Linked DNA regions of Homo sapiens: region 2 is linked to region 1. The links come from fine-mapping of genetic effects on gene expression. Tissue or cell type: prefrontal cortex. Region 1 holds a variant in brackets; the other region holds the start of a gene. All regions are shown on one strand. Distances are from middle to middle.

The links. PIP is the estimated chance that this variant, and not a neighbour inherited with it, causes the effect.
Region 2: CRYBB1 starts here. The variant in region 1 is fine-mapped to the expression of CRYBB1 in prefrontal cortex (ROSMAP, PIP 0.95).

The regions. Positions count from the first base shown.
Region 1 is chr22:26,634,583-26,642,669 of GRCh38, forward strand. No RefSeq gene overlaps it. Among named protein-coding and RNA genes, the nearest start is that of CRYBA4, 17 kb to the left of the region's middle. RefSeq lists an enhancer at 7,259-8,087. The variant A/G (reference allele first, on the strand shown) is at 3,828.
Region 2 is chr22:26,613,533-26,621,636 of GRCh38, forward strand. It overlaps CRYBB1 (crystallin beta B1), which reads right to left and starts at 4,495. Exons shown (of 6, transcript NM_001887.4): 1 at 4,445-4,495; 2 at 2,608-2,806. The coding sequence starts at 2,787. It also overlaps a transcript of CRYBA4 not described here. RefSeq lists enhancers at 160-838, 3,549-4,226, 4,905-5,580.

The DNA of each region.
Region 1 (8,087 bases):
TTGTTATTATTATTATTATTATTATTATTATTAAGACAGAGTCTCACTCTGTTGCCCAGGCTGGAGTGCAGTGGTGAGATCTTGGCTCGCTGCAGTCTCCGCCTCCCAGGTTCAAGAGTTTCTCCTGCTTCAGCCTCTCGAGTAGCTAGAATTACAGGCGTGTGCCACCATGCCTGGCTAATTTTTGTGTTTTTAGTAGAGACAGGGTTTTGCCATGTTGGCCAGGCTGATCTTGAACTCCTGACTTCAGGTGATCTGCCTGCCTTCGCCTCCCAAAGTGCTGGGATTACAGTTGTGAGCCACCTTGCCCAGCCTCTTCCTGAATCTTCACATGGTCTTGTCGCTATGCACATGCATCCCAGCTGCCTCTTCCTCCAACAGGACACCAGTCCTGTTGGATTAGGGCCCCGCCCTAATGGTCTCATTTAAACTTCATCACCTCTTTCAACACTTTACCTTCAAATACAGTCACATTCCGAGGTACTGGGGGTTTGGGACTTCAACATATGAATTTTAGGGGGACATAGTTCGGTCAAACACTCTCCCATCTGAGCTATTTCAGCTGCTAGAGGGGCACACAGTCCAGCCCATAACCCAGGCTCATTCCCATCTGAGGTTTTCAGCTTGTGCTGTTCCCTCTTCCTAGAACACTCTTCCCTCTGCTATTTCCCATCAACACTCTCCCGTAGAGCCAGATTCATAGACTGTCAGACCTTCTAGATCTGGATCTAGAACAAGGACGCTTCTAGATCATCAAGTCTAGCATTTCCCAACATTTTGTCTTTCCTTGTCATCCCCCTAGAGAGTCTTTTTAGATGTTATTTTCCTACACCTCCCCCCATGAAGTTTTGTTTTTAGAGATGGGGTCTCATCATTTTGCCCAGGCTGGTCTTGAACTCCTGGGCTCAAGTGATCTTCCCACCCTGGCTTCCCAAAGTGCTGGGATTACAGGTGTGAGCCACCACACCTGACCCCACCCCATGAAGTTTTAATATCACAAATATAAAGTATGTAATATACGTCTGTACAAACTCTGTATATATATCTGTGTTTTATACATAAAGAGTAAGATGGTTTTTTTGCTTCCCAAGATCAATTTTCACCTCTTGGGGGTCCTACTGAAGTACTGGGGGTTGGGGCTTCAACAACATTCTTAACAATATTGAGAATGCATAATTTTATCTCATCGTGTGTGTGTGTGTGTGTGTGTGTGTGAGAGACAGCATCTCACTCTGTCACCCAGGCTGGAGTGCAGTGGCACAATCTCGGCTCACTGCAACCTCTGCCTCCCGGGCTCCAGCAGTCCTCCCACCTCAGCCTCCCAAGCAGCTGGGACTAAACTATAGGCCTATGACACCATGCCCAGGTTTTTTGTTTTTTGCAGAGACTGGGTTTTGCCATGTTGCCCAGGCTGGTCTCGCACACCTTGGCTCAAGCAATCCGCCTGCTTCACCCTCCCAAATTGTTAGGATTACAGGCATGAGCCACCACACCTGGCCTTCATCCCTTTTTAACACGTAGGGAAATGGAAACCCAGGGAAGTGTGGGGACTTGATCAAGGCCATACAGCAAGTTAAAGGCAAAGCCAGGATTCAGACACAGACTTGTTCATTCATTCGTTCATTCATTCATTAAACATGTATCAAATGTCTGCTATGTACCAAACACTGTTACAGGTTCCAGGATCTAACAGGGAACAAAGATAAAATCCCTTGCCTTGGGGAATTTATATAATTGTCCAGGGATACAGATATTTCCCCTATACCTCCATGGCTGCTCAGTCAGGATTTTTCAGACTGTTACACAGATGTTGTAACATTGTTCTTTGAAAAAAAAAATCATGTGCTTTAGTTTTGGGTATTGTTGGTGTCCACACTGCAGGACTTCTCAGTGCCTACAATAGTTTAACATGTATTGTGAATCTCTGGAAGGGAGAATAGAATATTCAGAGTTTTCCAAATTTATTTGACCACAGAACAATTATGAACTTGTTCTTTCCCTTCTGTGGAGCACCTTGCATTATGAGTGGCCTGTGGAACATAAGGTAGGAAATGCTAGAGTTAGCTAGGATAGCCACTCACAGCCTAGTATGAATTAGTTTCCAAACGAGCTTTATGAAATGGACTGTGGAAGTTGTAAGTGTTGCTGTAGGGGCAGGGGTACTGTCCAGGAAGGGGTTCCATGGTCAGTCCTAGGGAAATGGGATTAGGAAGACATAGGGGTGAGGACAATTTAGAGAGGCCCATGAAGTCAATCTCTGTGGACTCTGAGGCCCAGAATGAGGGCTGGGCCTGGCTACCATCTTCCAGCTAGAAGTTTCCTCACTCAGAGCCCCTGAGGCCCTAGAAGGCACTGGATGTAGAGGGCTCTGCTGCACCTACCACAGAGAGGCCACTGTTTGACTTTGACAGGAAGACTGAGTTGGCACCAGCCTCCAGAAGAGGCCATCATGGGTTTGGGTTTGCATCCTGGGTTTACCAGCATGTAACCCCAGTTTCCTCATCTTTTAATGGAGAAATTCTCATCTCCTTGCTTGCAAAAAGTTAAATGATATATTATATATATGCCTGTGCCCAGGGTACACACAAAGAACTTGGTAAGCTCTCAGTAAAGGTTGATGGAAATTGTTAGTATCATTCTTAATATTGTTATTAGTATTATTATACATTTCTCGGTCCCTTTGCTTTGACCTCCTCCCTTATCTCCACCCAAAACCCTTTACCCAAGCATACCTTTCTCAGAATAATGATGATAATAATATCGATGATACATATTGTGTTTATCCCTTTCACATGTGATATAATTTAAACCTCACAGGGCCGGGCCTGGTGGCTCACGCCTGTAATCCCAGCACTTTGGGAGGCCGACGCGGGTGGATCACGAGGTCAGGAGATCGAGACCATCCTGGCTAACACGGTGAAACCCCGTCTCTACTAAAAATACAAAAAAATTAGCCGGGTGTGGTGGCGGGCACCTGTAGTCCCAGCTACTCGGGAGGCTGAGGCAGGAGAATGGCATGAAGCCTGGAGGTGGAGCTTGCAATGAGCCGAGATTGCACCACTGCACTCCAGCCTGGGGGACAGAGCGAGACTCCATCTCAAAAAAAACCAAAAAACAAAAAAACAAAAAAACCTCACAGTAACTTCTTTATGCAATTATTGTCTATTTAAAGCAGAGACGTGAGGCTCAGAGGCTCTGAGAGTTCAAGCAACTTGCCTGAGACCACCCAGCCTGCAGGACCATTGAGCCCACCGTAGGTTGTGCAAGGTTTTGGGGGGTGGATGAAAGAGATAATGGGCACAAATAAAATGTATAAACAATAAGTTGCTGGGTTCATGTCCTCCCTTTAAAGAGTTAAACAAGGGGCTGGGTGTGGTGGCTCGTGCCTGTAATCCCAGCACTTTGGGAGGCCGAGGCAGGCGGAACACGAGGTCAGGAGTTTGAGATCAGCCTGATCAACATGGTGAAACCCCGACTCTACTAAAAATACGAAAATTAGCCAGGTGTGGTGGTGTGTACCTGTAATCCCAGCTCCTCGGGAGGCTAAGGCAGGAGAATCGCTTGAACCTGGGAGGCAGAGGTTACAGTGAGCCGAGATGGTGCCACTACACTCCAGCCTGGGTGACAGAGCAAGGCTCCATCTCAGGAGAAAAAAAAAAAAAAGCCCTTCACACTTTAGTATTAACAACTATAGAGTTTCTTATAGGAAAGCCTCAGGTCCTTGGGCAAAGCGGGCCATACTTGCTGCAGGAAGGAAGGAAGGAAGGAGTGGAGGAAGGAGGGAGGGAAAAAGGGAGGAAGGAATGAGGGAGGAAAGGAAGGGAGGG[A/G]GAGAGAGAGGAAGGAGGGAAAGAAGGAAGGAAGGAAGGAAATTGAAATTTGGTGGTGATCATTTTAGGAGCCACCCCAGTTAGAGCCAGGAGTAAGGCTGGCAACCATAAAAAATGGGAGCCCAAATGTGAGCTGATGCTAGAGCAACAGACAATAAAGAGACAATTTGTCAGGGGCGATCTTGAGAGGGGAGATAACAGAGCATGAAATTATTTTTCATGTCTTGCCAGGGGACCAATTTTCTTAGGTTATGAAAGAAAGAGAGCTTAAATTATTGATGCTATTTGGTCAGAAGTGAGTGGTAGGCATGGAACACCCATCACCTGGAACAATGCACACAGCCGACAGGACTGAACACAGGGTCCAGGGCTGTGGATCCCAAACCAGCAACCTCTTTGCCCAGAGAGGGAAGGGGACTTGTTCAAGACCACACAGTAGGCACTATCCATGTTGCTCCTTGCAGCCTGTTCCCTAGGTGCTCACACCTGTGAGTAGGTGATACAGCACAGAAGAAAAGACACCGGGTGTTGCACACACCTGGGTGTGAATCCTGGATCCTGTGTTTACCAGGTAAGGTGATCTTCAGTGAGCTGCTTTGCCCCACTGAGCCTCAGTTTCCTCGCCTCTTAAAGAGGAAGGCTGTTATGAGGGTTCGAGGAGTTGATACCTGGAAAAATGCTTTGAAAATAATCCACAATGTGAGCCTTCTCTTTTTTTCTTTTTTGAGACTGGGTCTTGCTCTGTCACAAAGACTGGAGTGCAGGAGCAATCACAGCTCACTGCAGCCTCTACCTCCTCGGCTCAAGTGATCCTCCCACCTCAGCCCCCTGAGTAGCTGGGCCATGCCTGGGTAATTTTTAAACTCTTTTTGTAGAGATAGGTCTCACTATATTTCCCAGGCTGATCTCAAACTCTCGGGCTCAAGTGATCTGCCCATTCTGGCTTCCAAAAGTGCTGGGATTACAGGCTTGAGCCACCGTGCCCGCCTCTCTTTCTTTCTTTAAAAAAAAAAAAAGATTTATTTTAAAAATTGTATTTTTTTTTTTTTAAACTTAGTTTTGCTCTTGTTGCCCGGGCTGGAGTGCAATGGCGTGATCAATCATAAGTCACTGCAACCTCTGCCTCCCGGGTTCAAACGATTCTCCTGCCTCAGCCTCCCGAGTAGCTAGCATTACAGGCATGTGCCACCACACCCAACTAATTTTGTATTTTTAGTAGAGATGAGGTTTCACCATGTTGGTCAGGCTGGTCTTGAACTTCAGACCTCAGGTGATCCGCCCGCCTCGGCCCCCCAAAGTGCTGGGATTACAGGCGTGAGCCACCGCACCTGGCCAAAAAATTGTATTTTTAATTGACATATAACAATTATATACATACATAGGGTACAATGTGATGTTTTGATATGTGTTTACAATGTGGAATGATTAAACTGGGCTAATTAACAAATTCATCACCTCACATACTTATTTTTTTGTGATGAACACATTTAAAATCTACGCTTAGCAATTTTGAAATATACAATGCACTAGTATTTATTATAGTCACCATGCTGTGCAACAGATCACTAGAGTTTATTTCTCCTGTTTAACTGAAACTTTGCACCCTCTGATCGATGTCTCCCCTTTCTCCCCTTTCCCCCTCCACCCCCTCCTCCAGCTTCTGGTAACCACCGTTCCACTCTCTACTTTGATGAGTTCAACTTCTTTAGATTCCACATATGAGTGAGATCATACGGTATTTGTCTTCTGTGCCTGCCTTATTTCACTTAGCATAATGTCCTCCAGGTTTATCCATGCTGTCACCAATGGCAGGATTAACCTCCTTTTTCTTTCTTCCTTTTTTTTTTTGAGATGGACTCTCTCTCTGTTGCCCAGGCTGGAGTGCAGTGGCTTGATCCCGGCTCACTGCAACCGCCACCACCTGGGTTCAAGCGATTCTCCTGCCTCAGCCTCCCGCGTAGCTGGGATTACAGACACTTGCCACCACGCCTGGCTAATTTTTGTATTTTTAGTAGAGACAGGGCTTTGTTACATTGGGCAGGCTGGTCTTGAACTCCTGACCTCAGGTGACCTGCCCACCTTGGCTTCCCAATAACCTCCTTTTTTAGCCATTGTGCATATAGACACCACATTTAAAAAATCCATTCATCTGTTGATGGACAGATGAATGGACTGTAGATTGATTCCTGTCTTGGCTATTGTGAATAGTGCTGCAATGAACATGGGGGTGCAGGCATCTCGTCAGCATACTGACTTCAATTCCTTTGGATAGATATCCAGCAGTGGGATTGCTGGATCATATGGCAATTCTATTTTTAGTTTTCTGAGGAACCTCCATCCTGTTCTCCATAACGGCTGCACTAATTTACATTCCCACCAACAGCACATAAGGGTTCCGTTTTCCTACATCCTGGCCCTCACTTCTCTTTTGTCTTTTTGATACTGGCCATTCTAACAGGTGGGAGGAGATATCCCATGGTGGCTTTAGTTTGCATTTTCCTGATGATTCATAATGCCGAGCATGTTTTCATATATATGTTGACCATTTGTATGGCTTCTTTTGAGAAGTGTCTATTTAAGTCCTTTGCCCGAAAAAAAAAAATCTCCCACTAAAGAAAAGACCAGGACCACATGGCTTCACGGTGAAATTCCATCAAACATTTAAAGAAAAACCAATACTTATCCTTCCCAAACTCTTCCAAAATAAAGAAGAAGGAATACTTCCAAGCATATTTTACAGCATTATCCTGAATGCAAAGCCAGACCAGGACACAAGGAAAGATAATTACAGGCCAATATCTCTGATAAGAATAGGTACCAAATACTAGCAAACCAAATTCAACAGCACATTAAAAGGATCATTCATCATGATCAAGTGGGATTTATCCCTGGGACGCGAGGGTGGGTCAACATAGACAAATCAATAAATGTGAGCTGGGCGCGGTGGCTCATGCCTGTAATCCTAGCACTTTGGGAGGCTGAAGCGGGCAGATCACCTGAGATCAGGTGCCATTATTTGAGGTCAGCCTGGCCAACATGGAGAAAATGTTTCTACTAAAAATACAAAACTTAATCGGGCATGGTGGCACATGCCTGTAGTCGCAGCTACTCAGGAGGCTGAGGTGGGAGAATCACTTGAACCCCAGAGGCGGAGGCTGCAGTGAGCCAAGATTGTACCACTGCACTCCAGCCCAGGCGACAGAGTGAGACTCTGTCTCAAAAAAACCCAAAATCAAAAACCAAAACAAAACAAAACAAAGATGTGATCACTACATTAATGAATTAAGGACAAAAACCATAAGATCACCTCAATAGATAGAGAAAAAGCACTTGATAAAATTCAACATATTTTCCTGATAAAAACTCTCAATAAATTAGGCACAGAAGGAACGTACCGCAACACAATAAAGGCCATATATGACAAGCCCATAGCTAACATCATACTCAATAGTGCAAAGCTGAAAGCTTTTCCTTTAAGATCAGGAAGACCACTCTCACGACCTCTAGTCAACATTGCGCTTGAAGTTCTAGCCAGATCAATCAGGTAAGACACACACACACACACACACACACACACACACACACACACACACACACACACACACGTCTTTCTTATTCTTCCCTTTCTCCCTCTCCTGCCCCCTCTACCCCAGTGAAGGAGGAGGAGGTTGCAGTAAGCTGAGATCATGCCACTGCACTCCAGCCTGGGCTACAGAGATTCTGTCTCAAAAAAAAAAAAAAAAAAAAGAAGGTTAATCCTGCCATTGGTGACAACATGGATGAACCTGCAGGACATTATGCTATTATGCTAAGTGACATCAAGACCTGGTTCCTCCTCCTGCCCCTCTACCTGAGCTCTCACTACTGCTCCACTGAGATCCCCAAGAGCAAAGCTGTGACAAAGACTTCAGTGGGAGTCATCAGAGAAAAAGGAACACAACCACCTAGCGTGAAAGGGGGTGAGAAGCTGAAGATCCTACACATCTAGGGTGTGTTTATGAGAGGAAGGGAGGGAGGCAGAGAGGGAGAGAGGGGCGAGAACAAGAGGAAGGGAGTCAGAGGGGAGAGAGAGAGGCCAGAGAAAGAGAGAAAGAGGGAGAGAGAGGAGGTGGGGGGACAGACTGAGAAGAGAGAGAAGAGAAAAATGGAGGGAGAGAGAAGGGAGAGACAGAGGAGAGAGGGAAGAGAGAGAGGGAGAGAGAGGAGAGAGTAGGGGTCAGGGGAGAGAGGGGAGAGAAAGATGGGGAGAGACACAAAGAG
Region 2 (8,104 bases), 21 kb before region 1:
TCTGTAAACATAAATTGTAAAGATTTCATGGACACTTATCACTTCCCCAATCAATACCCTTGTGCTTTCCTATGCCTGTCTTTACTTTAATCTCTTAATCCTGTCAGCTGAGGAGGATGTATGTCGCCTCAGGACCGTGTGATAATTGCATTAACTGCACAAATTGTACAGCATGTGTGTTTGAGCAATATGAAATGTGGGCACCTTAAAAAAGAACAGGATAACAGCAATTGTTCAGGGAATAAGAGAGATAACCTTAAACTCTGACCGCCAGTGAGCCGGGCAGAACAGAGCCATATTTCTCTTCTTTCAAAAGCAAATGGGAGAAATATCGCTGAATTCTTTTTCTCAGCATGGAACATCCCTGAGAAAGAGAATGCGCACCTGGGGTTAGGTCTCTAAACTGGCCCCCCTGGGCGTGGTCGTCTCTTATGGTCGACGCTGCAGAGATGAGATAGACTCCAGTCTCCCATAGCTCTCCCAGGCTTATTAGGAAGAGGAAATTCCTGCCTAATAAATTTTGGCCAGACCGGTTGATCTCAAAACCCTGTCTCCTGATAAGATGTTATCAATGACAATGGTGCCCAAAACTTCATTAGCAATTTTAATTTTGCCCCGGTCCTGTGATCCTGTGATCTCTCCCTGCCTCCACTTGCCCTGTGATATTCTATTACCTTGTAAAGTACTTGATGTCTGTGACCCACACCTATTCTCACACTCCCTCCCCTTTTGAAACTCCCTAATAAAAACTTGCTGGTTTTTGCAGCTTGTGGGGCATCACGGAACCTACTGACATGTGATGTCTCCCCCGGACGCCCAGCTTTACAATTTTTCTCTTTTGTACTCTGTCCCTTTATTTCTCAAGCTGGCCGACGCTTAGGAAAAATAGAAAAGAATCTATGTGAATATCGGGGCAGGTTCCCCGATACCAGGAGACAGGGATAAGAACGTCCAAGCCATGCTGTTCACGAGAGCAAAGCTAGCAACCACTGAAATCGTGCTTAGCAGGAAAGAGATGGTCACGCTCTGAAATATCAGGCAGCAGCCAGAATGAATGGCCGGCAGTCATGCGCAACAATATGGATGGATATTAGGGATCTCATAGTAAGTGAAAAGTACAAAGAAAAGCCCAGAATAATCACATTGCATATTTCAATAAATTAAAAACAAGTAAATCGGCCAGTTGCGGTGGCTCACACCTATAATTCCAGCACTTGGGGAGGCGGAGGCTAGGAGTTCGAGACCAGCCTGGATAATATGGCAAAACCCGTCTCATAATTCGGTCTCAAAATAAATGAATAAATAAAACAAGTAAATAAATATACATGTGTATGTGTGTATACATTTTTAAAGGAATAATGCATAAAATTGTATACAAAAGCAAGCAAGCAGATTACAGACACAGGTTGAGGATAGGACAGTATTTCCTGGAGTTGGGGAGGAAAATGATGGACTCAAGGGAGACACCTTAGAGTTAGGTAGAAAGTTTTTAACCAAGTCCTGGCTTTTATATGGGTGGTGGGTTTGTAGGTGCATATTGCATTATTAGAAATTAAATAAAACTAATGATTAAATAGGTACATAAATAAAAACCTGCCACGCACTGACCACATGAGAGCGTGTCATGAACTAGGGGTTGCAAAATGGCCTACTTCTGTGACCTGAGGTTGAAACCACACCAAACCAAATCCCAGGGGACTGGACACCTTGCTCCACAGGATGCCTTTCAGCCCAGACCACCTCGAGCAATTTTGAGGGTCTGAGGCCATCCTGCTGCCCCAGTGAGCCTCCAAGGACAGCTGGTTCCCTGCTGCTAAGCCAGCCCACTTCCTTTTCTTCTTTTTTTTTCTTGCTTTCGATAAACTCTAAGCATGTGCGTGTGCAGGTGTAGCCTGATTGCCAGGTGTCCCTTCAGCTGTGAAGCGGTATGGTTTGGTTGTTGTTATTGCACAACTCAACTATAGGTCCCCTTTTTCTTTCTATTCTTTTCTTTTTTTTTTTGATGGAGTCTCCCTCTGTTGCCCAGGCTGGAGTGCAGTGGCATGATCTCAGCTCACTGCAACCTCCGCCTCCTGGGTTCAAGTGATTCTCCTGCCTCAGCCTCCCAAGTAGCTGGGATTACAGGCGCCCACCACTACGCCTGGCTAATTTTTGTATTTTTAGTAGAGACAGGGTTTCACCATGTTGGCCAGGCTGGTCTCGAACTCCTGACCTCAGGTGATCCACCTGCCTCGGCCTCCCAAAGTGCTGGGATTACAGGCATGAGCCACTGCGCCCGGCCCCACTTTCTCCAAGTGTGTCAGAACCCCTGGCTATTTTATGGGCTCCCAGATTGGCTGGGCCACACTTGTGTCCCAGAAGGAGGAGGGAGGAGGAGGCCAAGGTGAGGGAAAAAGAGAATAGGGACAGAGGATAAGAGTCTGGGGAGGTGGAGAAGAAGAAAAGGGAGAGTAAATAGAAAGGAGAGAAAATAAGCCAAGAAAAAGGAGGAGAAAGAGGTGCGGAGGAGTAAGAGGTGAAAGAGGAAGAGGAGGAGGAGAAGAAGGAGGAGGAGGGAAGGAAGGAAAGAAGGCATGGCACCCAGCCACTGCACCCCCAGGTCCTTACCCTGTAGTTCCCAGGAGGCAGTTCCGCCGCCTTGGCGCTGGTAATAGGCACGGTTGTTGGGGCCAGGGTAGTGCCGGGACTAGGGGATGTTCCTGCAGGTGGGGCCCCCTTCCCCTTGGTGTCAGGCCCTGGGTTCACCGCCACTGTGGCCGAGGCCGAGGCCTTTGCAGCCTGAGACATGGTTCCCGCCTGCAAAAGTCTGTAAAGAAACTCTGGCCTTCAGGGATGACACCCCCAAACTGCCTCCTGCCCTCATAGCCCCACATCCTGTGCTTTCAGCCTCCTTGGAGCTCGTTTCCTCTCTATCTCCTTCTGAAACGGTTAAGCCTGGAAGTTTTTCTTTCATCCCTACTTCCCAGCCAAGACCTTCCCGTCTGGGGGCCACTCATCCCACATATATCCTTCCTCCAGGCTTTTGACCATGCGGTTCCCTCCACTAGCTGTTCCACCCTCCATTACCCCGCTAGGTCCTTCCTTAGCCCCCTGCAATTTTCCACACTGCTTATCACACTGATTTGCTTGTGCAACTCCAATTTGCCTCCCTAGACTAATAACAAGAAGTCCCATTTGGGAGTACTTAAGGTGTGCCAGGCACTGTGACATACATTAATTAACCCATCTGACCATGAACCTCACCCGATGGAGTAGCTGCTATCATGATCCCCTCTGAGCAGCAGGGGGCTGGAGAAGGAAGGGGCCCAGCTCAGGCCCAAACAGCTACTAAGTGGTAGGGCTCTGATTTCAACTCAAGGAAATGGAGCCAGCAACTGGGCTTTTAAAGTATTCTGCCATTTGCTTAATCTGATTTATTCACCGTCCATCCCTAACACTTGCTCTGCACCTGGCACATAGGAGATGCCCAATTAACATTTGTTCAGAGAATGAATGAATGCATGCTCCCAGCTCCTTTCCCCGTCTGCTTCCTCTGAGGGGTTGGTGTATGGGTGCAAATACAGGCCGGGGACTGAGGCTTATGGGAGGACCCAAGAGGATGTATTTACTGCATGTGGAGGGTTCTGAAAATGAGGACTGGGGCTGGGTAGGCTTTGGGTGGAGAGGGCTTTGGTCAATTCCAGTGGTTCCTTGTTGCTTTGGGGTCGTGGACTCCTTTGAATGTTTGATGAATACCTCAACTTTGTCCCCGGACAAAAATAATGCTCTCTTTAACTTTGGAGACAATGTTAAGGGATTTGAGGACCCCCTGCTAGCACAGATTAAGACCCTCTGGTCAAGCTGATTCCCGAACACATTCTGTAAGGCGGAGCTAGTTGGGATAAGCACATCCCTCCCCCAGCCTCCTCCAGGAAGGCTGTGCATATTCTGGGGTGCCCCCTGTTCACCAGGGGTGAGGCCAGACATCTGGACCACATCTGTGGCTTTAAACACTCCCCCAGGGCTGGCAGCTGGACTCATGCCTTCCTGGAGATATTCTCATTCTCTCTCTCTCCCTGCTTCACCCTCTCCCTCTGTTCCTCCTCTCTTCCCTGTCTTTGCCTCTCTATCTGTTTCTTACTTCTCTCCCTCTTTCTGCCTATCTGCCTGTCTGTTTCTCTCCCTCTCTGTTCCTCTCTCCCCCACTATCTCTCCCTCATTGTATCTTTGCTTATCTCTCTATCTGTCCTTTTTAATTATATTTACTTCTCTCTCTATTTCTGTCTTTTCTCACTCTCTCCCCTCTCCCTCTCCCTCCCTTTCTTCCTCTCTCCACTTCCGTCTTTATCTCCATGGCCCTGCTCTCTGACTCTCATGGCACTGCTATCTCTGCCTCCCTCTCTCTGTCTCCCTTTTCTCTTCCCCTCCCCTTCAGCTCTCAGCTGGGCTGTGGGTTCCCTCTTACCTGGGGACTTGCTACTTCCTGCTGGAGGACAGGCAGGCGGGCAGGTGCTATGGGTGACTAGAGTCCGACCCCCCATTTTATAGTCTGGCAGACATCAGGCCCTATAGTCTGTGGCACAAAGGGGAAGCTGGCTCAGCAGGCCTGGGCAGGGAGTGGGGGACTGGGGCCCTGACCTCGCCTGGATCACTGCAGACAGCAGCACTTTCCTTTGTGAGACCAGCACACACAGCAGAAACCCTGGCCACAGCAGCTTCACCTTCCAACCCTACCCTGACTCCTTTCTCAACAACCCCAGCCAGGGATGGGCCCCCAAAAGGGTCCCTGCTGGCTGCCAACATGGGGCAGGGAAAAGGGGAGACCCTGGGAGGCAGGAGACCAGAGTTTGAATCCTGACTCAGCCACTGCGCGCTGTGTGGCTTTTGGTAGGTCTCTACCCCTAGGGGGGCCTCTGTGTCTGCAATTATAAGGTGGGCACGTGTCCCTGTTGGATGCCATATAGAAAAGAAGGTGACAATGAGCACAGAAGCGTTTTGTAAAGGCAGATGTGGGTTTGATATGGACAGCCTTTTTTACGGAGTGCTTACTGTGTGCCGAACCCGTGTTATCTCGGTCAGTCCCCGGGACAATCTGCCTTATTTGGTACTTTCATTATGCCCATTTCACAGAAGAGGAAAGTGAAGGCACAGAGAGGTCAGAGCCAGCCCAGGCCAGCCAGCTCTGGGCCTGTGTGCTTTCTTCTCCTGCTGTCCAGCCTTGACCTTGGCCTGAGGCCCCCTGGCCTGACTTCCTCTTTGTAGGTTGGGGTGGGAATGGGAGAGTCGCACTGTGCTCAGCTGGGTTGGATATCGGAGACCTGGGTCTTTTTCTTTTCCCCACATTGGGCCCCATCCTTTCCTGACCTATCGACAGTGATCCCTCTCGCCACCCCAGTTCCCCGCCTCTACCCAGGCCACGTTATCTGACCTGGAGGACAGTGCTGGTGGCCAGAAATATGACTGCCTGTCCCAGAGCCTCCTGCCCTGGCAAGCCCCAGATGCCCACCACATCTTGTTCACCACTGGCCCCAGCACCTAGCTGGGCCTGGCTAGGTAGAGCTTGGCACATCATGGGTTCTCAGTCAATAACTGGTGACTCAATGGTGGTTCCAATGGATCGGAACAGAAGGTAGGGTACGGAGGAGATAGGGAAACCAAGGCAAGGAGAGAGAAGTAAGGAGGCAGATAGAAGTAACAGACAAAGAGAGAGGTGGAGACAGAGACACAGAGAGGCACAGGGGACATGGACAGTGAAGGAGCGAGAGACGGAGAGACAGAGGTCAAGTTGGGGTGATCAAGCCTCAGGACGGAGGAACAGACGCCAGAAATCACAGGGCCCAATCCTCCCATTTCACAAATGGAGAAACCGAGGCCCAGGTGGAACAAATGACTTCAACATAGTCACATGGCGGGAACTCACAGTACAGCTGGGGTCAGAAGGAGCCTGGGGAGCTGCTCAGCTAGGTCACCTGCAGTCGGCTCCCCAGTCCCAGGCAGGGTATATTGCGGGGGCATCTGGATAGGCTCCTGTCTCTTCTTTTTCGGGGTTCTAGGCTCCCCGTGGAGCCCAGCTCTGTCTTGAACTCTCCCTGGCCTGGAGCCAGCTTTGCCTCTGTCCCTCCACCACCCAGCACCCCCTCGCTTCCTAGCCTCTCCTTGGCCTTTCATCCTGGGCCAAGACTTGGTGGGTGGGGTGTGGGCAGGAACTGCAAGATGGGGTAGCCACTGGAACTGGGGCCAAGACGCCTGTGGTGAGGGCCCACCCACCAGTCTAGGCTTCAAAGCCAGGTCATCTGGGGCAGTTCCGTGCCCCCCCTAAAGCCCCAGGAATGGGCTGTCTGCCAGAGGGTGGGGGCAGAGAAGGGGGATGGCCCACCATGTTGGTGGCTCCACTCTGAGCATTTATTATTATTATTGTATCCTTCATTATATCTTTTTCTTTTTTGCCCTGTCTTATGGAGCCAATTTATTTTCTTTTCTTTTTTTCTTTTCTTTTTTTTTTTTTGCATTGTCCTGTACTCCTCAGTATAAGGATGAAGTCTCTGGGATTAACCCCAATTACGGATAAGGAAACTGAAGCAACTCCCTTTCCTTCCTCTCTCTCAGCCACTTTCTCATAAAAATGGAAATGTAAGATAAAATTGGAACTCACATCTTCTTTACTCATGAACCCAGGCTCTTAAAAACTATGCACCCCTGCTTTTTGATCAACAATTAATAATAATCATCTTTCTTATTAGCAATGGTGATGATGAAGATGATGGAAATACCACAATATTTTTTATGTTGCAGGAGCAATTCCAGCTGCTGTTCATGTGCTATTCACATTTATCCTCACAATCCCCCTGTTTCTTAGACTAATCCCAACTTACCTTGTTACACCCATTTTACACACAAGTAAACTGAGGCTCAGAGTGCGTAAGTAACATGCTTAAAAGTTACCCAGCCAGCACCAGTGGGATGCAAACCCAGGCAGTCTGGCTGTAGAGGGTGCATTGTTAACCTTTCATTTTCATGCCAACCCTTCATCAAAGTCATGCATTCCTTTTTTTTTTTTTTTTTTTTTTTTTTGAGACGGGGTCTTGCTCTGTCACCCAGGGTCAAGAGAAATGGCATGATCTTGGCTCACTGAAACCCCTGCCTCCAGGTTCAAGCAATTCTCCTGCCTCAGCCTCCCTAGTAGCTGGGATTACAGGCGCCCGCGCTACTCCCGGCTAATTTTTGTGTTTTTAGTAGAGACGGGGTTTCACCATGTTGGCCAGCCTGGTCTTGAACTCCTGACCTCAGGTGATCCACCCACCTCGGCCTCCCAAAGTGCTGAGATTACAGGCGTGAGCCATTGCGCCCAGCCTAAAGTCATGCGTTTGATAGAGCTGCATTTCACCCTCTTAAAAGGAAACTGGTGTGGCCACTTTACAGGTCATGAGCAGGACTCAGGTGTCCTCCAGGTCACACGGATGGTAAGAAAGAAGCAGGGCTGGATTTCATCTCAGATGATCTGGTTTCCAGTCATGCTGTTTTCCTATGCTTGTTACACCCATTTTACACACAAGTATGTATGTATGAGGGACCTCTTAGGTCCCTCATACGCCAATTCAGAGGGCAGGGTTTCGGGACAAGAGGCACACAGCAAATTGTACAAGTCCTGGATATTTGGCAAGTGTGCCACAGTTTGCAAAGCATGTTTGCAACTAACAGCTCCTCTATGCTGCCCACAGTGCCATCCGGATTCATCTTCAGGCTTTGTGGACCCAGCAGGCCCTGGCCTAGCCCTCTTCTCCTGCCTCACTTCCCTTCAGGTCCCCTGAGCTCCAGGCCAATTGGGCTACCAGCTCTTTCTTGTACATGTGCCCCAAGTTCCCACCTCTGAACTTTTTCTTAGAATGCCTCTCCTTCCATCTCACTCTGTACATATCTTCCTCATCCTTCAGAGTCTAGTTCAAATGCCTCCTCTAACGGCAAGCCTATCTGGATTGCTTCAACTGGAAGAGAAAGGGGAAAGAGAGAAGGAAAGGAATAGGCATTTCCTGAATGTTTACTCTGTACCAGGCATGTTATGTAACCTCACAACAACTCTGTGATATGGTTTGTTTCTGCCCCATTTTATAGGCAGAAATTGAGGGGA